Linked DNA regions of Homo sapiens: regions 1 and 2 are each linked to region 3. Evidence: fine-mapped expression QTL. A gene starts in region 3. Each other region holds a variant in brackets. All regions are shown on one strand. Distances are between the middles of the regions. Region 1 overlaps KLRD1 (killer cell lectin like receptor D1). Region 2 overlaps LOC105369656 (a long non-coding RNA gene). Region 3 holds the start of KLRD1 (killer cell lectin like receptor D1).

Region 1 (8,191 bases), 21 kb before region 3:
AGTCCTTTTCCTGGCTCATCCTGGCTCAAAAAGCACCCCCACTGAACACCTTGCAACCCCCCCACTCCTGCCCGCCAGAGAACAAACCCCCTTTGACTGTAATTTTCCTTTACCTACCCAAATCCTATAAAACGGCCCCACCCTTATCTCCCTTTGCTGACTCTCTTTTCAGACTCAGCCCGCCTGCACCCAGGTGAAATAAACGGCCATGTTGCTCACACAAAGCCTGTTTGGTGGTCTCTTCACACGGACGCGTGTGAAATTTGGTGCCAAAACCCGGGTACATCTTCCTGAATCAGGCTTCTGAGAACTGTTCCACTTTGCAGTCCTGTTGGATCTATATCTTGAGAAATAAATTAAAGAGCTTTTCCCTCCACAGTGACTCTTCGTATATTTGTAAACAAGTTTGGTTTTATTTGTTTTAATCATTTTGATTGAAATGTAGAACTAGAAACAAAATGATGGTGTCAAAAATAGTTTATTAGTTGTTAAGTTTTTAGGGAGTCAAAAGTTATATATGGATTGTCAACTGCAGAGGAGGTCAGTGGTCCTAATGCCCACATTGTTCAAGGTTGACTGTATGTGTGTAGACGTATATTTTTTTCTAGTTAAGGAGATAGCCATACAGTTTTACTTTTCTCATGAGCTTTATTTGTTCAATTTTTGTGAATGTTTCAGGTGCATTTGGAAAAAAATATATTTTATATTATCAGTGCATAGTGATCAATATGTATTCAAAATATCTGCTATACTATCTTATTTAGATCTTCCGGAAAATAACTTATTTTTGCCCACACTTTCTGCCTTATATTGAGAGTGGTATATTAAAATCACCCTGTATTAATATGTTATGGTCTTTTTTTTTCTTGCATCTCTTGTAATTTGTATTTTATATAAATAATCAGTGTATTAATTACTACATAAATTCTTAACTATGTACTCTTCATTGCAGTATGTAGATTTTAATATTATACAACATCTTTCTTTGCCTCATTTAGTTCTGTTTTTATGTCTACTTCTTTGGCATCAGAATTGCAACCCCTTTCTTATTGCTAACATTCATCTTGTAAATCTTTGTTCATTATTTTACTGTGGTATACTATTACCTCTCACAGTTCAACTCCTGTTTCATACCAACCTTATTATTTTTTTGGCATTTGTGGTCTTGTTTTTATGATTGCGTTAGAATGTCTAATTCAATTTGCAGTGTTTATTACACTTTTCATCTGCTTAGTGGTTGTTTCCTTTTTTGAGTGAGTGATTTTTCAAAAGAAAAATATTTTTATTTACATTATCTGAAGTTTTAAAGAGGTTTCACATAAATATGGTCTGTTTTTTCCTATTCCTGTTTCGTGGACAAGGAACCTAGTTAGAGAGCTCCCTCTTCTGTCAGTTCTGTCCTATTCAGCATAGTGTCCTCTATGGGTGGTGGTGATGATGGGATTGGGAAGGGCAAATGATAGTCATGTCTTTTTTCTCTTTCCTTTCTGCAGGATTCTTAAGTCCCTCACATTACTTATTTGCTTTGATAGTCACATTTCTAAGGAGTGTCACTCCTTTATTTTCTGCTTCTCTCCAAGAAACCATTGTTTTCCTTTCCAAGTTTTCCACTTCTGGTCTTCAGTTTCAAGCCTTTTCCCAGTACTATGAACTACCAAGTCCAAAATTGTGTTAAGTATTCTGGCATTGATTGTTGAAGTTTTATCTTTCAGGGTTTATTGTATCTGTGATTCATTTATGTCCTCTAGTCTTCTCTTCTGAGTATGTTAAAGACTAATCTCCCTATCCTGCACCGCAGGTATTCAGTGGTAGGCAGGAGCGAGTGTTCTTTTGCAATATTTTTTCTCTATTTATAGGTAATTTGAAGGTTGTGGTACTCTATGTGTCCTAGAGATGTTGAAAGGATAAGGTATTATGTGGTTTTATTTGCTTTTCTTATTAATTTTATGAGTTTGGGGGAGAGATAGGAGATATCTGGGATTAGACAACCATCTCTGCAACGTGAGAAACTGAGGATTTAGCTACTGTTATTTGTTAAAGTGCCCTTTCTCTTAAATCCTTACTCTGAAATCTATTTCATACTTCAAACCTGTCAAAGGTTGTATGGAAGACTTATTATAAGCTCTCAATAAATAAAAATTCTAAAATGTTAACCTCAGGTGACTGTGTTCTTAATGTACAGGCTTACTTTCTTGTAGCCTGTCTGTGTAATTTATTTAGTATTTTAACAAACAGCTGTCACCTATGTTGGCTGAAAAAATGCAAGTCTAACCATTTTAATGTTGGAGCAATTAAAACCATGTATGAAAAAAATATTACATTGGATTTTACAACATATGTGCATCATAGCTAGAAACACTTCTAAGAATATATTTAAGAAAACCTCAGTTGGCGAGTAGAAAATATCAGAAAGCCTACTTAGTACTATATGGGATTGTGTTATCATAGCTCATACAGGATGTTTGGTGGCGTTGTGTACAGTGGTATTTGTTCTCTCCATCATGAGGTAACTCCAGCCACAATTTTTTCCATTTACGCATGGTAATGTTTTGTCCATTTAAGATGCAATTAAATTTCATTGTATTGTATTCCAGTTTAGAAATACAGCAAATGTTTTTATATATACATTAAATTTAAAATATATACATATACATACACATAAATTATAAATATGTATCTTATTTTTATATATTTAAATTATAAAATAAATGGTGGAGTAAAATTAGCAAGATGACAGAGTGGGAAGCCCTGGTCTCTTTTCTCTCTACAAATGCACCAATTCAACTAAAAATTCATAGACAAATTTTCTTTGTGGGAAATTAAGAAACTAGTTGAGATGCTCCAATGCTGTTGGTGAAACTACTCATGTTGAAGCCTTAGGGAAATCTAAGGTACACTCCTTCCCTAATTCCTGCCCCCAGCACAGTGCCAAAAAACCAGGGAGAAACTCCCCTGCTCCCAGCTTTGCTCTTGGTTAATAAATGATGGATGGCATGTCCAATTCCCCAATTTTTCCAGGGGCTACTCCTAAGACTGGCTTCTCTCTAGCCTGTCTCAGTGTACTGATAGAACCAAGCATAGCCTGGCTGCGTGGGACCAGCAAGAACATAGATGGTGGGGTGAGCTGGCAGTTTCAACCACTCCTTGGATCAAGATGGAGTGAGTGGACCAAAACCTTTAACTCTCAGCTTCTCCTTGGGGGAAAAAGTTGAACTAAACAACTGATAATCCATATTTTCTGGAGATTGCCTGAGGAGCTAGCTTTATTCCTGTTTATCTCAGAGCACTGACAGGACCTGGGATATTCTAGATGCCTGGAATCTACCAAGAAAAAAAGAAAGCCAGTTGGACTAGCATGAAGGTTGAAGAAGACTGCAAAAATCCTTCGCCAAATAATAACTAAAAGACAACAAAAAATGCCTTTACTGATATTATAAAAAATAGACTTTAAGTCAAAAATTGTCACAAGAAAAAAAGAAGGATATTACATAATGATAAAGGCGTCAATTCACATTGGAGGATACAATAATTTTAAATATATATGCACCCAACATCAGAGTATCTAAAGGTATAAAGCAAACATTGACTGAACTTAAGGGAGAAATAGATAGCAATACAATAACAGTAGGAGATTTCAGTGCTCACTTT[T/A]AATAATGGATAGAACAACCAAACATAAAGGCAACAAAGACCCAGATGACCTGATCAACACTGCAAGTCAAGTCACCTACAGACATGTGCAGAACATTCCATCCAACAGCAGCAGAGTATACATTCTTCTCAAGTGCACATGGATCATTCTGCAGGATAGATCATATGTTAGGTCATAAAAGAAGTCTTAAGAAAATTAAGAAAATTGAAGTCATATCAAGTATCTTTTACAGCATCAAGGGAATGAAACTAGAAATCAGTTGCAAAAGGAAAACTAATAAATATGTGATAATTTAACAATACATTTTTGAACAACCAATCTGCAAAGAATAAATCAAAAGGGAAATTTAAAAACACATTAGAATAAATGAAAACAAAAATAAAGTCTAACAAAACTTATGGGATGTAGTAAAAGTAGGGCTAAAAGAAAAGTTTATAGTGATGAATATCTGCATTAAGAAAAAAGAAAGGTCTCAAACAATGCACTTTATACCTTGATATGGTTTGGCTGTGTCCCCACCCAAATCTCATCTTGAATTGTAGCTCCCATAATTCCCCCATGTTGGTGGAGGGACCCAGTGGGAGATAATTGAATCATGGGGGTGGTTTCCCCCATACTGTTCTCATGGTAGTGAATCAGTCTTATGAAATCAGATGGTTTTATAAGGGGAAACCCCCTTTGGCTTGGCTTTCATTCTCTCTTGTCTGCCGCCATGTGAGACATGTGTTTTACCTTCTGCCATGATAGTGAGGCCTCCCCAGCCACGTGGAACTGTGAGTCCATTAAACCTCTTTTTCTTTACAAATTACCCAGTCTCTCAGTTAAGTCTTTATCAACAGTGTGAAAATGGACTAATACATATCCCAAGCAACTAGAAATGTAGAAAAGAACAAACAAAGTTCAAATTTAGAAGAATAAAGAAAATAATAAAGATTAGTTCAGAAATAAAATAGTGAATGGAAAGGATATATAAAAAGTAAACAAAACTAAGAGTTAGTTTTTGGAAAATATAAATAACTTGACAAACCTTTAGCTAGACTAAGAAAAAGAAGAGAGGCCTTAAATAAATGAAATCAGAAATAAGACATTGCAACTGATGCCACAGAAATATAAAAGATGGTAAGAGACAACTAAGAACAATTATAGGCCAACAAATTGGATAACCTAGAAGAAATGAAAAAATTCACAAAGACAAGGACCTACCAAGACTGAATTATGAAGAAATAGAAAATATGAGCGTATCTATAACTAGAATGAAGATTGAATCAGTAATCAAGAAACTTACAACAAAAAAATTCCCAGGACAAGATGGCTCTTCTGGTGAAGCCACCAAATATTTAAGGAGAAATTAATGGCCATCTTTCCCAAGCTATTATATAAAAATTTAAAAAGAATAAATACTTTCAAACTAATTTTATGTGGCCAGCATTACCATTACACCAAAGCTTGTCAAAGATACCACAAGAAAACTATAAGCCAATATGTCTAGTAAACGTAGATGCAAAAATCCTCAACAAAGTAGTAGCAAAATTAATTCAACAGTACACTAAAAGGAGTATATGCCATAAGCAAGTGGCATTTATCCCTGGGGTGCAAGGATAGCCTAACATACAAAATCAATTAATGTAATATACCACATTAATAGAATGAAGGATAAATGTCACCTGTGCATCTCAATAGATTCAGAAAAAAAGTTTTCACAAAATTTAATACCCATTTTATGATGATAACTCCTGCCAACCTAGAATTTGAGAAAAATATTTCAACATTTTGAAGGCCCTATATGTAAAGTGCATAGCTAATATCATGCTATGGAAAAAGCTGAACTTTTCCTCTGACATCAGAAACATGGCAAGGATGTTTGCACTTGCCATTTCTATTTAACCCTTGTCCTACTTAAAGCTCTTAGGCAAGGAAAAGAAATTAACAACATACAGATTGTAAAAGAAGAAGTACAATGGTCCCTGTTTGCCTATGGCATGCTCTAAAGAATCCACAAAAAAGCCTCCTAAAACCAAGTAAAGTTGCAGGGTACAAAATCAACATGCAAAAATCCTCCTATATTCATTTATTAAAAGACTTCATATAGTTAAAATATTTGTATTTCACAATGTGATCTGCAGATTTAGTGCAATACCTATCAAGACCTCAATGGCATTTTAGAATTAGGAAAACAATGATACTAAAATATACATGGAACCACAAAAAGCCCTGAATAGCCAAACAAATCTTGAGCAAGAAACAGAAGGCCAGAGGCCTCAAACTTCCTGATATCAAAATATATTACAAAGCTACAATAATTGAAACAATATGGCACTGGCATAAAGATGAACATATAGACCAATTAAACAGATTGGAGAACTTGGGAATAAACTTTGCAAATATGGTTAAACGGTCTTTGGGTGGCAGGACTATTTAAGGGGAAATGACAGTTTCTTCAACAAACAGTGACGGGAAAAATGAACATCCATATTGCAAAGAAATTGCTTATCTTACACCATATGCAAAAATAAATTTCAAATGGATTAAAAGCCTAAATGTAAGTACTGAAAATGTAAAGCCCTTCAAAGAAAACATAGAGGAAAACCTTTTGACATTGGTTTTGGCAATGATATCATCAATCTGACACCAAAAGCACAGGCAACAAAAGCAAGAATAGACAAGTAGGACTATAGCAAACAAACAGCTTGTTCGCATCAAAGGTGTGAAAGGAAAATATCTTGGGCCCCCAAAATCACTCAACAAAAGGGAAAATTCAAGCTGGGAACTGCTTAGGGCAAAACTGCCTCCCATTCTATTCAAAGTCATCTCTTTGCTCACTGAGATAAATACGTATCTGATTGCCTCCTTTGGAAAGGCTAATCAGAAACAAAAAGATGCAACCATTTGTCCCTTACCTGTGACCTGGGAGCCCCCCATTCTATTCAAAGTCATCTCTTTGCTCACTGAGATAAATGCATATCTGATTGCCTCCTTTGGAAAGGCTAATCAGAAACAAAAAGGTGCAACCATTTGTCTCTTACCTGTGACCTGGAAGCCCCCTCCTTGCTTCCAGTTGTTTCACTTCTGCTTTGAATTGTCCCACCTTTCTAGACCAAACCACTGTTCATTTTACATATGTTGATTGATGTCTCATGTCTCCCTAAAATGTATAAAACCAAACTGTGCCCTGACCACCTTGGGCACATGTCAGCAGGACCTCCTGAGGTGAGGCTGTGTTATGGGCATATGTTCTCAACCTTTGCAAAATAAACTTTCTAAATTAACTGAGACCTGTCTCAAATTTTCAGGGTTCACAAAGGAAATAACCAATGGAATGAAAGGATGATCTACAGAATGGGAGAAAATAATTGCAAATCATATATCAGAAAAGGAGTCAATATCCAAAACATATAAAGAACTCCTACAACTCAATATTAAAAAAAACACAAGTAACCCAATTAAAAAATGTATCAAAGACTTGAATGGTCATTTCTTCATAAAAAACATACAAAGGGTCAATGGGCATATGAAATGATGCTCAATATCACTAATCATCAGGGAAATGCAAATTATAACCACCAAATATCATCTCTCACTTATAAGGATGGCTATTATCAAACAAATGAAAGACAAGTGTTGAGAAGTACGTGGGGTAATTAGACCCCTTGAACACTTTGGTGGGAATGAAAAATTGTGCTGCTTCTGTGGAAAACAGGATGGTGATTTCTCAAAAAATTAAAAATAGAACTACCATATGATCCACCAATCCCCTTTCTGGGTAATTATGCAAAAGAATTGAAATAAGAATCTCAAAGAAATATTAGTATACTACTGTCCATTGCTATACTAGTCACAGTAGCCAATGTGTACATACACATACAATAGAATATTATCCAGCCTTAAAAATGAAATCCTGCAATATGTAACAATGTGGATGAAACTTGAGGACATTATGCTAAATGAAATAAACAAGTCACAGGATAAATACTATATGATTCCACTTACGTGAAATATCTAAAGTGGTCAAGCTTATAAAATCAGAGAATAGAATGGTGGTTGCCAGGAATGGAGAGAGGAAAAAATGGGACGTCGTTAATCAAAGGGCATAAAGCCTCAATTATGCAAGATGAATAAATTATAGAGATCTACTATACAACATTGTACCTATTGTTAATAATACTGTACTGTAGACTTGAAAATTTGTTAAGAGGATAGATCTTATGTTGTATTTACCTCAATAAAATAAAATTTTAAAAAATTAGCAAAGCATCTGCAAAGATACGTAAAAAAGATAACATGAACAACTGAGGTTTATAACTGGGAAATAAAAACTATCTGATTTCAATCGAGGCAGAATAAAACATTTAATAAAAGCATATGTCATATGTACTCCTTATAAAAATTCTCATCAGACTAGGAATAGGAGGGAACTTTCTCAACCTAGTAAAGGTCATTTATGAAAATCCTACAGCTAAAATTAAGTATAAAGGTAAAAAAAGTGAATATTCATGCTCTAAGATCAATAGCAAAACAAGGGTGTTTACTCACCACTTGTATTCA
Region 2 (8,191 bases), 24 kb after region 3:
CTCGGCCTCCCAAAGTGCTGGGATTACAGGCATGAGCCACTGCGCCTGGCCTGATCTTTCTTACAGAGGTAAAAATCCGTATTTAGACAGATAATTAAACTAAGTTATCCCCGTAGTTTTGTATAACCTAGGGGTGGTTTTTAAAGTCCTAGCAAATTTTTAGTTACATATTTTATTTCCTCGTTTCTCCATTTCATGCTTCTGTCTTCTAAGAAGCATAATTTAATTCGTAAAAGTATCTGTTTATATATAACAATATCTATTTATAGGTTTTATAATACTTCAGTATATAAATAATTCACTTGAAAAGGATGTTGGCACCAAAATGGATGGTCTTTTTTAAAACTTAGAATTTATTTGGATTTGTTTGAAGTTAGGTTTCATGGGAGGAAATGCTCTCATTATTTGTATAACATTTTTTTGCAACCTATCTGTGAGAGGTCTGAGTGTTAAATAAAAAAAAATTCGGAGTTATTTGTATATATGCATGTATTTGTGTATGAAACAAATACCAGCAAATACTTATTGACTATACCAATCTCATACATACCCTTGCATTCTCCCATGGCTGTCTAACTTCAAACCTGTGCCTTACAATGCATATCCATCTTTGCTTTTAGGTACAGTTTCACCACGGTTTTTAATCATCAAAAAAACACAAACAGATAAACAATAAAAAAAAAGAGGGTTTTGTTTTTGTTTTGAGACAGAGTCTCACTCTGTCACCCAGGCTGGAGTGCAGTGGTACAATCTCAGCTCACTGCAACCTCTGCCTCCCGGGTTCAAGCGATTCTCCTGCCTCAGCCTCCTGAGTAGCTGGGACTACAGGCGCACCACCACGCCCGTCTAATTGTTGTATTCTTAGTAGAAATGGGGTTTTGCCACATTGGCCAGGCTGGTCTCGAACTCATGACCTCAGGTGATCCCCCTGCCTCGCCTCCCAGAGTGCTGGGATTACAGGTGTGAGCCACTGCACCTGGTGCCCAGTGAGGTTCTTTATAAGAACAAAACTGAATGTAAACAGTTACGGGACCAGATGCGGTGGCTCATGCCTGTAATTCCAACACTTTGGGAGGCCAAGATGGGAGCATGACTTGATCTCAGGAGTTTGGGACCAGCCTGGGCAACAAAGTGAGATCCCGTCTCTATAAAAAAAAAAAAAAAAAAAAAAAAAAAGCACCATAAGCGAAATAAAATGATGATTCAAAGACTATTTTGCATTCAAAACTAATTTCTAATCAATCCTTATCAGGTAATTATTCTTTCTGCTTCTTCAATCTGCTAAATACAAGATGTCAAAAGTGAGTAGTTTCAAATGTTTGATTCTGCTTTTGGTAGATCGTAAACTTGAGTAGGTTACATAACCCCTTTAAGATTCTTTTCCATCATGTGTAAAACGTAAAATGCAACTAAATAGTTTATTGGAAATATGTTCTGAGAATGGTTTAATGTATAAACATATAGGGTATTTAACACCTAATTAGTGCTCAAAACCATTAAGAAACATATTGAGGTAGATAGGACATAAGCTATTCATTATTAGTTACAGTGAGTTTGCAGACTGAACTTTAAGCTTTCACGGAAATCTCCGGACTCTGATATGACCCTGGACCCCTGTGAGACCTCAGTCATCAGTACACTTTATGTGTAACAGGTGTGGCTGACACATCACACCGTATGGTACAGAATGTTTCCAACCACAGAGTTGCTGCTGCCTAAAATAACAGTTAACACCTACACTGGTCTTGGTGTGGCCGCAGGATGTTGGGGATAAAGTGGATGGGTAATGGGTAGAGGAAATGGCGTGTCTGGCGAAAACAGTAAGATGCTGTTGCAAACAATATTGGGAGTTGAAGCAATTTACCTGGGCAAAAAGCAGAAGACACAGCTTAAGGAGGAGAGAAGAGACCAGAACTGAGGTTTACAAGCATGGATGTGGCTGATCACTAGCACTGTAGCTGCGCTATTTTTGTTATTCCAGCAAGTGTAAACATAGGAAACATTACTAAACTTAGAGCTGTGACAATATTTACCTGTTAAGAGAAGAGGAGGGAATAGGAAAGAGTCAATCACAAAGAAAAAATAACATAAGAATCATAAAGCATTGACTGGACTGTAAATACTAGTCATATTTTCTATGAGATGATTTTTAACTGGAATTTTCTTCGGATAATGTGCTTAGAGATAGCGTGTTTTGTAGGTGGAAATAATGGGCAGGTAAAGACACACAAAAAAAACAACTTTAAGGTACCATGAAGAAAGATGTTAAATAAAACCATGTGAAAAATTATCCTGGTGACTATTGATACACAAAGGACTTATTTCATATTGGAAGCTTAAAGAAAGGAATGGTTTGTCCCTGAGTTATTTCAGAACCCTTATCATGACAGAATGGTGACTGTAACAGGAATTTTTCAGACTAGACATAAAGATGGTTCACATGAGAGGAAAAGAAAACTAGCATATGGCAAAAATAATTTCTAGAATAAACGTGACTTGACTGGCTGTGGTTTTACAGACTGTTTTTAAAAGAAGGAACCCATTTTTATCAGTCACACGACTCTCTACTTAAATTTCAATTTTAGCAACAACACAATCTAAAGGTAAGAATTTATTTTATAAATAGTAGTAAAGAATTTTGAAAATACAGAAATGATATTTTACTCCAGGTTAATATGCAACATTGCTAGCATGGTACACTGGCAACATCAGTAGAGCCAGATAATGAAGAGAAATCTCACAGGAATAGGGCATAGATTGTTCTTTTATATATAGTTCTCTCACCATACATCTAAAAACTTTTAAGTGGAAACTAAATGATGTGTAGGATACAGAGACCCTAATTTCTTTTTTTTTTGAGATGGAGTTTCGCTCTTGTTGCCCAGGCTGGAGTGCAATGGCACGATCTGGGCTCACCGCAACCTCCGCCTCCCAGGTTCAAGCAATTCTCCTGCCTCAGCCTCCTGAGTAGCTGGGATTACAGGCATGCACCACCATGCCCGGCTAATTTTGTATTTTTAGTAGAGACGGGATTTCTCCACGTTGAGGCTGGTCTCGAACTTCTGACCTCAGGTGATCTGCCCGCCTTGGCCTCCCAAAGTGCTGGGATTACAGGTGTGAGCCACTGTGCCTGGCCCAGAGACCCTAATTTCTTATCTGAAATTTGTGGAGAGAAATGTACTTTAAAATTTATTAGTTTTTATTTTAAAATATATGTGTTTATACATACATGAATTAACAGCCTCATTGGCATTTGATGATTCACGCTATAACCCAGCA[C/T]ATTAATATTTCCACAGCAAAATGTATAAAACAAAAACTATGATTAGCTAAGTTCAGGTTTTGGAACCAAACTAATGAAAACATTTTGTTTACAGAGATTTGGTTTTTAGCCTTATGGATAAAGAACTGGGGACTTATCTCCTGTGTCAGTATGTGGATTAAATTATACTCAATTCTTTGTTCAAAACACCTATTCCCCACTTACTGAGCCCCTCCACATGTGGTTTCATACTGATAATTTATCTGAGTGATTTTACACACATGTTATAGTAAACCTATGTATAGATTGGACAAGGTAAGTTGAATCTCTTCACAGAATATTGTGTTAACAAGTCTTTTGTTGTTGTTGTTGTTGTTGTTACTGTTGTTTTTTGAGAGAGAGTTTTACTCTTGTCACCCAGGCTGGAGTGCACTGGTGCGATCTGGGCTCACTGCAACCTCCACCTCCCAGTTCAGGTGATTCTCCTGCCTCAGCCTCCTGAGTAGCTGGGATTACAAGCGCCCACCACCATGCCCAGCTATTTTTTTTTTTTTTTTTGTATTTTTAATAGAGATGAGATTTCACCATGTTGGCCAGGCTGGTCTTGAACTCCTGACCTCAGGTGATCCGCCCACCTCGGCCTCCCAAAGTGTTGGGATTACAGGCATGAGCCACCATGCCCAGCCAACAAGTCTTACTTTTGATTGAGTATGAGAAGTATCTCTCCCAAAATATAATGGTTCTATGCATTGATAGATTTGGTTTCTTCCACTCTGTCAGTCACTTTTCTCTTTGTCCTCCCTGGTTTTCCCCTGTTCTGCTTGTTTCTTGGGGTGCTGATTCCTGCAACACATGTTTCACCACCTCCATGGCTAACCAGCTTCCAGGTAGGTGGAGTCAATGGAGCCACTGGGTTGAGATTTGGAAGGTAGGAAGAGGGGAGAAGCCTGTTATTTTGTCTTTCCCCTCTCTGCTTCAGGCTTTATCTCCTGCAGTGACCACACATGCTATGTACTGGTCTGTTTTATTTAATTTTAATATTTATTTTATTGTGATAGGAATACACCATGAGATCTACTCTATTAACAAATTTTGAAATGTACAATACAATATTGTTAAGTCTAGGCACAATGTTGTACAGCAGATCTCTAGAGCTTACTCATTTTGCATTACTAAAACCTTATCCCCACTCTCCGCTCCTCACTGTCCCTGGTAACCACTATTCTGCTCCTTGCTTCTATGAATTAGACTATTTTAGATGCCTCATACAAATGGAATCGTGTTTTTGTCCTTCCCTCATGCTATGTTGTTTGAACTGCTGCCAAATAGCAACTGCCTCGTGGCAGGCACCAGCCACTGTGGTGCCAGTCCCCATCAAGTGGTTCTGGTAAACCCACCTGCTCCCTTGTTTCCTCTAGCTCTGGGAATAGTACCAGCTTTCTGTTTTGCCCATATCTGAATTGTCTTCTTTCTCCTGACGGACTCTTAGATTTCTCCAACTGTTTGATAAATACCCTCCTCTGTTAACTTCCCTCTATGTAATGACTTGGCACAGAATTTGTTTTCCTGCCTGGACATTCACGAATACATCAACCTACCTTGAATAATATCTACTACACTCTTGTTTCCCTGACAATTTCTCTGTCTTTATTTCTACCTATTTCTGCTCAGTCCCTCCCTCTGATCTAGCCCCAATGCTACTTCTCAAACAAACCATTCAGTCTTAGGTTGTAGAGACTGTCCACTATTTGAACAGTTCCTTGCTCAAATATTTTAGAGACTCTCTACGTCAAACGTCGCTCATTTGACATTACTCAAATGACACCTCCTTTGGAATGCCTTCCTTGAACACATCTTCTAACTTTGTACCCACATCATTATGTATGCTCTACAATATTTCTTACAAAAGAGAAAGAAGCCAAAGTTCAGTCACAGGACCAATAACTTAAAGCCAAAATATAAAGTGGCATACCATTTTAAACATAATACTATATATGAACTTTATAGTAATTATATTTTTATTTGCCAGATGTGGTGGCTCACACCTGTAATCCCAGCACTTTGGGAGGCTGAGGCAGGCGGATCATCTGAGGTCAGGAGTTCGAGATCAGCCTGACCAACATGGAGAAACCCCATCTCTACTAAAAATACAAAATTAGCCGGGCATGGTAGTGCATGCCTGTAATCCCAGCTACTCAGGAAGGCTGAAGCAAGAGAATCACTTGAAGCCGGGAGGCGGAGGTTGTGGTGAGCCGAGATCATGCCATTACACCCCAGCCTGGGCAATAAGAGTGAAACTCAGTCTCAAAAAAAAAAAAAAATGTATGTATACATATGTGTATATGTTTTTATTTGATATTTGTAACTTTATGGAGAATGTATTTTATTATATAATGCTGACATTAAAAAATTATAGGCAATGTTAGAGAAATCAAATATTTATATTTTTATAAAAATAATGAATAGAAGAGTGACATATAACGATCAGAGTACTTTATTCTCAAATTCACAAAAATGATAAACCAGAAGATTAAAACTAGAAGAGATTAGTGGTTATTGGTAGTTTTAACAGAATTCAGATTAGAAGGCTACATTTGTATGAGAATTATTGTTTCTCAAGACTACAGAATTCTATTTATGTAACCAAAACAATTAGAATAATTCAAATACTGCCGTGTAAGTTTATGACCAAGGTTTCCCTCAATTTCCCTCTAAATTGGATATATAGTCTTGCTCTTCACCTGCTTCCCCGGAGTCTCCAATTATGTAAGTAATTCTCAGATAATCGTCTCTTAGTCATGTTCAGTCACGGGAATGTGTCATTTCAGGAATTCAAATTCCTAAATCTATATAATAACAAAATTTTTGAATTTTATGCAAAGCTAAAATTTTTCTTTTTCCTTTGGCTCCAACTGAACTCAGATGAGAAAATCAGCACAGAAAAAGGTAGTGTAGATGATTCCTCTCTTTGTCTCGGGAGAGAATCTCAGGGGGTTCTTGGATACATCCCTGCGGAGCCCTGCAACTACAACTCCTGACATGGGCAATGAACCTGCACTTGTGTGTTGTGTGGTTTTGATTCTTCCTCACCCTCAAACCAGGTGTCTCATATTTTCTGTTAGAGCGCTATATCCCACCTATCACTCTTCATGCATGGCAGCTGTCTTAGTATACTATTGCTGCTGTAACAAACAAGCACAAATTTAGTAAGAAAAACAACAAAAATTATTCTCTTACAGTTTTAGAGGGTTGGAGTCTGAAAAGTCTTATGGAGCTAATATCAAGGTTACAGCAGGGCTGAATCTGTTCCTCTCCTCATCCAGCTTCTCATGTCTGCCAGCGTTCCCTCACTTGTGGTTTTGTCTTTCCAGCTTCTGTTCCCATGATTGCACTGCCTCCTCCTTTTCTGTACTCAAATCTCCCTCTGCATCCCTTTTATAAGGATACTTGGGGTTACATTTTAAGCTGACTTTGATAATCCAAAATAATCCTTCAATCTCAAGATCCTCAATCTCTTCTCACTTCTCCTAAGTATCTCTCGCCCTATAAGGTAGCATTCACAGCTTCCAATGATTATGACCTGGATATACTTGGAGCCATTATTCAGCCTACTATAGAATCTAGGATGAGTCCAGGTTATTCCCTGCTCTCATCTGGACCCCTTTTACCTACAAGAAACATTCACACATAGTTTATTATATGGATGTGCAACGGGTTCCCAGTGGATCTTTCACAACTCTACCACCACAGGCTTCTGGGGGCAGGATTCTCAACACCTGGTTTTCAAACCACACCTCACCTCCATTCTCCATGCTTTTTTGCTGCATTCTGTGCAGCTGAGCTCTGACAACTGTATCACACAGTCTTCCTCACCCTCTGGCTTCTGTCTGTTTTCAACCATTGGAAAGCATTGGTAGGAGAAGAGAAGCTGGGATGAGAAAGTGGAAAAATTATATAATTCTCTAGCTCCTTCCTCATTTTCAGGTCCTGGAAATGGCTAGAATCTGTCCTGAACTCTTGGCATCTTCTGATACTCAACGATGGAGCACGGCGTGAACATCATCCTGCTGCCCTACACAATATTGTCTAGACTATGGGTAGCTAAAAAATCTATTTGCAATTAATAATAAAGAAATAAAAACAAAGTTCTGATTAAGTATTCTGCTGTATATTTTCCTAGAATATTGGCTACTTAAATGTTTTCCATATAATTATTAAATAAATATTTATTCTGAAGCGGTCCATCTCTATTCTGATCTAGCCCATGTTGAATTTTTTCTTCAGAAAGGAAAAGAGATTTTTCTCCTGCATTTAATCCAGTGATTATTTTTCATTTAAACATCAGGCATCTGGTTAATACACTCAAGGTGTGCAAAAAGTGTGGCTGACACATCATTTCACTGTACGTTCCTCTGTACAGAACACTTCCAACCACAGTGTTGCTAGCCCTGGAAAGAACATTTAGCACCTAGACCACCGATGTTATTGTAACGATTGTTGGTAATTCTAACTTGTGTCATGGGAAAGGAGAAAGACATTTCTGATGAAAAATAATAAAATTCTACTGCAAGAGATATTGAAAGTCAAATCTGTGTATCTGGCCCAGAAGCAGTAGGTTTTACTTAACAGAGGAGAAGGAAATCAAAACTGAGATTTGCAAGCCTGGATGTGGTGACCACTATTAACTATCACATTAGTGTCATTATCATTTGGACAAGTAGGACCACAGGTAACAACATTAGCTTCAGAATCATAAAAGGATTTTTTGTTGGAAGAGGAAAGAGGGAGGAATGTAGAGACAGATAATAATGTGAAATAACATGAGGCAGGAAAAATTTTGATGTAATGAGAATAAGAAATAATATAAGGATGGAAAAATTCTTGATACAAGTTATACATATGATTATGTAAGTATTATAATCATGTTCTGAA
Region 3 (8,191 bases):
AAAAGTTTCTTTCACTTTATTTGGCACCTATCTTGATTTGTATTCCCATGATATAATCATTAAGGAATTTAATAAAGATTTTACAATGACTACTTTAAGGTACACAGAACAGATAACTCAATTCCAATATAACCATCCACTTACTATGTGATTAATGACTTAAACCAAAGTATTTAACTTGTTTAGATAGTATATTTTTCTAGATCAAAGAAAATGTAGAAAATCAGACTCAGCACATGCCAGTTCATCTGTGTTTTGAAGCTGAAGCAGGCTGGATTTCTGAGAAGCACAGAGATGCCGACTTTCGTTCCAAGTTTTCTGTTCACTGGAAATGAAGTAACAGTTGCACCGGTACCCAACCCATTTTTCTTGGCAAGAACAGCAGTCAGAGTCTGACAGAAAACATAAAGCATGACTAATGACACTGGAGACTAGACATTTTTTTCAATGCTATTTAATTATTCAAAAATTATTTGCTGTGTATTCTTTTAACATTCAGAATCTACTGTATACACCACACTTCAGGGGCTACTAATGTGAACTAATTAGACATGAACATGATGCTTTTTCCTCATGGAGATTATATTCTAGAGATAGAATTACAATTATATAATTTTCAATAATTTATTAACGATATTTAGTGATGATTTAGATAAGTACAAAAAAATTAAGTATGTTAAAACAGCATGTAGCAGAGTGTAAGATGAGGGGCAGTTACAAGAACCTTTTTTTGAGGAAGTGACTCAAAACTAAGTACTGTAGCATAAATAGGAGTTAACTAGATGAAAAAGATTTAAAGGAGGAAAACATTTTAGCATACTTTCTGAGTCAGAAAAGAATATGGTACATTTGGAGAATTTTGATATATGTTTGGATATCTTATTTTTGAAAAGGGAATATAAATAAACCAATTATCTTGAGGCTTAATTATACAGTTTATCAATAATAGTGTCTTCAACGTTTGTTACCCACGGTAATAAAAACATGACACGTCATAGGCACTCAAATCTTTGCCATATAAGTAGTGCTGAAGATGTTGCACTATTATTTTTATATTTTTTAATTGTTTTTGAGACAGAGTCTTGCTGTGTTGCCCAGGCTGGAGTGCAGTGGCACCATCTCAGCTCCCTTCAACCTCCGCCTCCCAGGTTCAAGTGATTCTCATGCCTCAGCCTCCTGAGTAACTGATACTACAGGTGCGTGCCGCCATGCCTGGCTAATTTTTGTATTTTTAGTACAGACGGGGTTGGCCTGTCTTGAACTTCTGACCTCAAGTAATATGCCTACCTCAGCCTCCCAAAGAGCTGGGATTACAGACGTGAGCCACTGTGCCTGGCCAAGATGTTGCACTGTAAATAAACACTATATAATCAAGATGATGGTGAGACAACTTGGGGCGCATTCCGAAAAATACATATTTAGAAAATTGAGGCCGGGCGCAGTGGCTCTGCTGGGTACGGCATAATCCCAACACTTTGGAAGCCGAGGCAGGTGGATGACCTGAGGTCAGGAGTTCGAGACCAGCCTGGCCAACATGGCGAAACCCTGACTCTACTAATAACACAAAAATTAGCTGGGCATGGTGGCGGGCGCCTGTAGTCCCAGCTACTTGGGAGGCTGAGGCAGGAAGGTGGGAGAATCACTTGAACCAGGGAGGCTGATGTGGCAGTGAGCCAAGATCGTGCCACTGCACTCCAGCCTGGACGACAAGAGCAAAACTCCATCTCCAAAAACGAAAATTGGACTTTGAGCTGGCTTTCACTGGATAAGTAAGGTTTAGAAATCTGTGCAGTATATTCTGGAAAAGGAAAAGTAGTGAGATGCAAAAGTATAGGTTATAAGCAAATTCAGGCAGGTAATGAGGATTAACTGTAACATTTCCTGTGGTTTATTTTTTGTTACTTAATTATGAGCACTCATATAGGAAACATATCTTTCGTTTCAGGCTACTATTTTCCTGATTAGTTAAATGTACAAATGATACACATTCAGTGTAATTTAATCATTTTTACATTAGATTGAGCAATGTAAAATGAGACTATCCTACACTGGTAGGCAAATTTCTATTACTAAGTATAATATTCCATCATGCCTCTCTGTGTGAAAAACAAGAAACTGCCTATTTAATCTTTTACCAATGCTAAGTTTTCCAAAAAATGTGACCTACCTTTCTGGAGTTCTATGTTGGGTCCTGGAGTAAATGCTGGCTCAATACTCAGTTTAGTAAAAGCTATAAGAAATGATTAGAAATTTGTTTAATTAGGTATGGGTTTATGAAATACTAAAATATTACACATTAGCAAGATGAAGCCTTTATTATTAAATGATGTCTTCACAGTTTTGATTTTTATGGAGACTTGCTTAGAAAAACTTACAATTTTTCAACAAAATTCCCAACGTAGACATCAACGAAAGGCATATTATCCCTAAGGTCCCAGAAATTAACCTCCACAGAGTGGTCTTAAACACTGTAGAGAAAGACAGACAGAGTAATGACTTAAAGAGCAAACTCAGGAGCTGAGTTCTTAAAAGCAGAAACTAGTGACGGAGAATCCACAACATTCTTTCATTTGATAACGGAGTCATCTTGCCAATAAAACACTGAAGACTTTCCAATCGGGACTTCACCCAATACCAACATTTTTATGTGATGTATCTTATTCTTCAGGAAGATTATTCAAACATTTTCTTCTCTACCAGCTCTGTTGCAGTAAAGTGAATTTACCATTTATTTTAAATTGGCAGAGGTGCTTAAAGATCTGGAGGTAGAAGATATTAACAAGCACCACGTTGTGTTTTATGGACTTACATAACAGGCATTTATTTTTATTCTCTCAACAAAATCACAAGATAGATAGTATGGTTCTCATTACATAGATGAGAAAACATAAGGTCCAATAATAATGTTATTTTCTCAAGGTATCAAAGCAAGTAAGTATCCAAGTCAGAAATCACATGAAAGTGTGTCTAGCTCAAGAATCTTTCATTCAACGTAGTCTACCATTGTCACAATAATACTAGTTGAGAGTATGCCCTCTCCTCATCTCAGTGCAGGTTTTGCTCTGATAAATGTCTAGCTGCTCATTGGTTCGTAGAGATATTATAGGGAAAAGAAGACATAGGAACATTCTGGACTTGGTGTGATAACTGATAACAAATTGATGGGTAACAACTTTGAGGCCTGGCTTCATTTCACAGTATATTGAACATACATAAACAATCCTTTTTCCCCTAGAACATTCCATTTGTTCATACTCAAAATTACTTGCTTTTAGGCCTTTCACCTAAAACATTTCAACATTAGGAGATTCTGTGCTAACGTGAACACACTCTCAAAGAGTGATGTCATTAACAACAGTACAATGTGTCAAACTGTTCATTTGTGTAATTTTTGGATGTCACAACATAAATAGTCAATTAAAACCTTTTCAGCATTGTGTCATTAATATTTGGCATTTTCTATTGCTATACTAGAACACTGTTGCTCACAATTTAACCAGGCTAAAGTTCAGTTCTCACTCAGAATTTAAAGGTAGCCCTGTCAGAAACCACTCTTCAAACCTGTGGAAAAAACTTCATGAAATCATGTCTAAGTTATACAATGAAGAATCAGGAAAATATAATGAATGTGGAAAGTGCTAATGCATGAAAATCCTAAAAACATCCACTGTTAATCATGTCCTTTTCTCTTAAAGCATTACCCCAAAATCAGCCAATCCAAGAAATAGCTTTTCTGGTTATTTTTAATTTAGTGACTGAAATCACACATACCTGCCATGAGAAATTATGTTCCAAGAGCGAAGTAGAGAAGGCACGATGTGTACTTTTTCAGAAAGAACAGCGTTGAATTGTTGAAGCTGAGCTGGAGATTAAAGAATCTGAAAGTTGAGTATGAAGAAATTTAGCAAAAATAGAGAATGAAAAATTGTGTATTTAAATGATGTTCTTGAATCATCTATTGGTGAGACATGTATTATAGTGTGAATAAGAAGCAGTAGAATCACAAGCCTCTGAAGTGTTCCAGGAACCACAATACAGGAAATTCTCACAGTACTTTTGCAATATTAACACTTTGGCAAGGACTAAAGAAGGTGAGAGGAGGTCAGAGGGAGTTTTGTTGCTGTTTTGTTTTTTATTGTTTGAAAATCAAATTCATTTTAAAGGGTTATCTGGAAAATGAAGGAAATGATGGGCAAACCAAAGGTAAATTTACTTAGCATAACAAAATTACTTACAGAATTTTCCTCTTTTAATAATAAACATTTATTATTTACCTTGTACTTAACACAATTTAAAGCACTTGGCATATCTTAGCTCATTTATTTCTGTAAATGGCTTGATAGTAAAGATATATAAATATCTTCAATCTATCAAAGAGAAAACTGAGGCATACAGAGCTAAGTAATTTGCCCAAGGTCACATAAATTGGGATTTCCATGTCTCACTCTGTTCTTCTGATCTCTACCTAATTATCCTGGCCACGACAGGCAAAGTTCAAAAAAGTAGAACTGGATGGGTTTCCCACTTGGACGCCTCATTCACGTTAGCCTTAAAAGCTTTTTTCAACACCTCAATTTTCATTTTCTTAAAGTTCTTTAAGCACGACTTCAGCTTCTTTATTTTCCTTATTTTTACTAATACATTATTATATTGTTTAGTGTGTTATCTAATTCAGATACTATACTGATACTTCGATATACACTTTTTCATCTACAGAAGAGTAACCTTGTTAATAGGAATATCAAATGTGGAACAGGTCAAATTTCCAATGTGGAAGAGATTGGCTATAATAAGAATCTTGAAAGGAGAGATTTCGATCCATGATTTAGTATCTGGAAATACAATCTACCATGCACCCCCATACAAAAGCAGACACTCAAATAAACGTTTTGTGTATTATATTTTGTATATTGTTTATGTTCAAGCATTATAATATTACTATAGATAAACCCTTTTGTAAAAGATGGGCTTTCAACCAACAACAGAAAAAAATGAAAGAAAAGACTACTTTGACTTCTCAGTTTTTATGAAGTCAAAACTTTCCATCTTTTCAGTTTGCATTGTGTGCCTAGAGCTGCTTTCATTGCACCAACAAATTTGTTGAGCTATAAATCCTCACTGAAGAATATAAGCGTAAAATCTACTTCATCCAGACTGTATGCAAATCTTAGTTGAAGTGATTTATTTAAAAATCCTTTGCTTACTTGAAATCTATTCATTTTTAGTGTTAGAAAAAGCTGGTCTGGAAGAAACCTGTCTGATACTATTTTTCCCCCATGTAAAATTGCCTCAAAATATAGGAGATTAGGGGTTTGCTTTTAGTTTTTCTCTTGAGAGAGTACAAATTTATGACAGAATGTGCAATAGGGATTATTACTACACTTTCATTACTAACACAACCACCTTTATTTGGAAGTTAGAGGTTCTAAGTTTTTAGAACCCTGTTTGGTGAGAATACGTCCATCAGTCATTGTCCTTTTTTTCATCTTAGTTCACTGACTTAGAAATAAAAATCCAACAAATACAAGTTTACTTCAAGAACTCCAGGCTTAAATATTTAAGATACCTAAACACACACACACACACACACATACACACACACAGTAAACATATATGTATATACCTCTTTAACTCTTTCTGAGCTGCCAACTCTGATTGTTCTTTTTTTGTTTGTTTTTGTTTGTTTGTTTTTTGAGATGGAGTCTCTGTCACCCAGGCTGGAGTGCAGTGGCTCACTCGGCTCACTGCAAGCTCCGCCTCCCGTGTTCACGCCATTCTCCTGCCTCGGCCTACCGAGTAGCTGGGGCTACAGGCTCCCGCCACCACGCCCAGCTAATTTTTTGTATTTTTTTTTTTTAGTAGAGACGGGGTTTCACCGTGTTAGCCAGGATTGTCTCGATCTCCTGACCTCGTGATCCGCCCGCCTCGGCCTCCCAAAGTGCTGGGATTACAGGCGTGAGCCACCGTGCCCGGCCTCTGTTCTTTCTATTTATTTTTGTACGTAGACAGGTGAATGATTTCCATGTACTGTATCTCTCCCACTCATCTCCACTTGTTCCTGAAGTTATCATTGCCTCGCCTATGTCCCTTGGAATATTTGGGGAACTATGGCCAACTAGTTATCTGTATAGCTGTATCTATGGGTTCTTTTTTTCTCCAATAACTGCTGAAAGCCTTGCTGTTCTCAGACATGCTAATCCGGAAGTGCTGAATAATCATCACCAGAATGGGCGTCAACAAACGAATCTTGTGATTTGCTATACAGTCCAGCAGTCTCAGCCCTAAAGTCAGGTAATTCTGAACATTGTGTTTTGCCCAGTTCCCAGAATTACTCAATAGTGTTATGTTCCAGTCACCTCCTCTAGAAGCTAGATTAAGAAAATAACCTTTATTGCGTTCCACTTTCCCTTTCCTATTACATTTCCTTTCCTACATTTATTGCATACACAATTCCAAATAAAGTTTCTACTCAAAGTATTCTCTGAGTGTGCTGCCGAGAGAAACCAGACTAAATTCCGCTGAAATATCCAGCTTCACTTACATAAATTTGCTTTTGAAAAGTTAGGTATCCTGCCAAAAGAACGTCTCTCTTTGCAGGACTTTCCATCCCCTAGTATCCATTGCAGGAAGATGCCCTCTTCCTCCCCTGCAATTTACTAGTGCCCTTGGTAAGAGCAAGTGATGACTTCAATAGCTAAGTCAACTTTTAAACCTTAGTCAAAAGCCAGGGAAAAGAAACTAATGTTCACTTAACATATAAACAGTGAAGTCTTTTCCCTACCTAAAAATGTATAACTAAAATGTTGCAGAACAAAATAACAGTATACGTTCTAGTATCCCCAAGGGAAAAATTTATTTTGATCTCACTGCTTTTAGAAAATGCATTCTTTGAGCGGAAAGAAAATTGCTCACATCAGGCTGCAAATTATTCTTTTAACAGAGAGAGAGGGCTCCCTGAGAAAAAACAAAAGACGTTACTGACCTGGTAAAATCTCATTGTAAACATGCTAATAACAAACCTACTAGCTATAGTGGTTTCTTATATATAGTGTGTTTTGCTTGCAAAATCCTTATCAATGGAATGATTTTAGCAGGATGTATTAGATTGTCTAAAATTGTTAGTGGTAAAATCAAATAAAAAAATAAAACTAAGGCTGGGCATAGTGGCTCACGCCTGTAATCTCAGCTCTTTTGGAGGCCAAGGCAGGTGGATCACCTGAGGTCAGGAGTTCAAGGCCAGCCTGGCCAACATGGAGAAACCCTGTCTCTACTAAAAATACAAAATTAGTCGGGCATGGTGGCACTCACCTGTAACCCCTGCTACTTGGGAGGCTGAGGCATTAGAGTCTCTTGAACTTGATGAGCTGAGATCGCACCATTGCACTCCAGCCTGGGTGACAAGAGCAAAACACACTATATAAAAAAAAAGCATAAAACTAGAATCTGTGGGTTTATGGAGGCTGGCTTCCTGGAAAAATGTCACATAAGCTATGTGTAACCATAACCATGTAACCATCTGAGTATAAAATGGAGATGTGTCATAACCAAAACATCTCCTTTTGTGTAAACGGTGCAGCCACAAACACCATTAAGAGACCTCATATGTTTATCTGTTTGTCTGGGCCAGAGTGTGTCCTAAGGGGAAAGTAAGAATGAGTGGGTGCTTTTGCAGGCCTGGGTTTTCCACTGTTTTGTCTGCATCTCACAATTATTGTATAACTGAAATTATGAGTAAAGCATGATACTGGGTGAAATCTCTGAGGATGCTTGTGATACTGATTTGACAATCCAATCCTTTATGTTACCTTCTTGAAGAACTGGTTAAGTTTTGTCCACATAGATAATGAGAAATATACATACAATTACATGTATAGAAGCAAACACTCCTTGCCTTTCATCTTATAGCCCAAGTTATCATTGCCCCTCTCTTATATCTAGGAACCTTTGTTTTACTTAAACAGACTTTTGCATCTGTAGGCCTTGGGACTTCTTTTCCCCCTAGATCTGCTCAAAACTTTGCCACCCTCATACCAATGGATCTCAGGACTTGATATATAAATATCCCAAATTATTTTGCTTATCTTATATGCAGGGGCTATTTGGGGATGCATGCCAGAAAAAGAAATGTGTTGTTGGGGCTCAGGACATATCACCCCAAAATATGATAGCAGGAGACTAAAATATGTCCCCT

Evidence for each region.
Region 1: its variant is fine-mapped to the expression of KLRD1 in whole blood (TOPMed, PIP above 0.99).
Region 2: its variant is fine-mapped to the expression of KLRD1 in whole blood (INTERVAL, PIP above 0.99).

Annotation. Positions count from the first base shown.
Region 1 is chr12:10,325,045-10,333,235 of GRCh38, reverse strand. It overlaps KLRD1 (killer cell lectin like receptor D1), which reads right to left. Exons shown (of 6, transcript NM_002262.5): 6 at 3,628-8,191. It overlaps LINC02617 (long intergenic non-protein coding RNA 2617), which reads left to right. Exons shown (of 3, transcript NR_159946.1): 3 at 173-376. Among named protein-coding and RNA genes, the nearest start is that of LINC02617, 9.2 kb to the left of the region's middle. The variant T/A (reference allele first, on the strand shown) is at 3,649.
Region 2 is chr12:10,279,648-10,287,838 of GRCh38, reverse strand. LOC105369656 (a long non-coding RNA gene) reads left to right here. Exons shown (of 2, transcript XR_931353.3): 2 at 7,244-7,404. It also overlaps a transcript of KLRD1 not described here. Among named protein-coding and RNA genes, the nearest start is that of KLRD1, 24 kb to the left of the region's middle. The variant C/T (reference allele first, on the strand shown) is at 3,280.
Region 3 is chr12:10,303,665-10,311,855 of GRCh38, reverse strand. KLRD1 (killer cell lectin like receptor D1) reads right to left here and starts at 3,986. Exons shown (of 6, transcript NM_002262.5): 1 at 3,772-3,986; 2 at 2,376-2,468; 3 at 2,168-2,230; 4 at 241-392. The coding sequence starts at 3,778.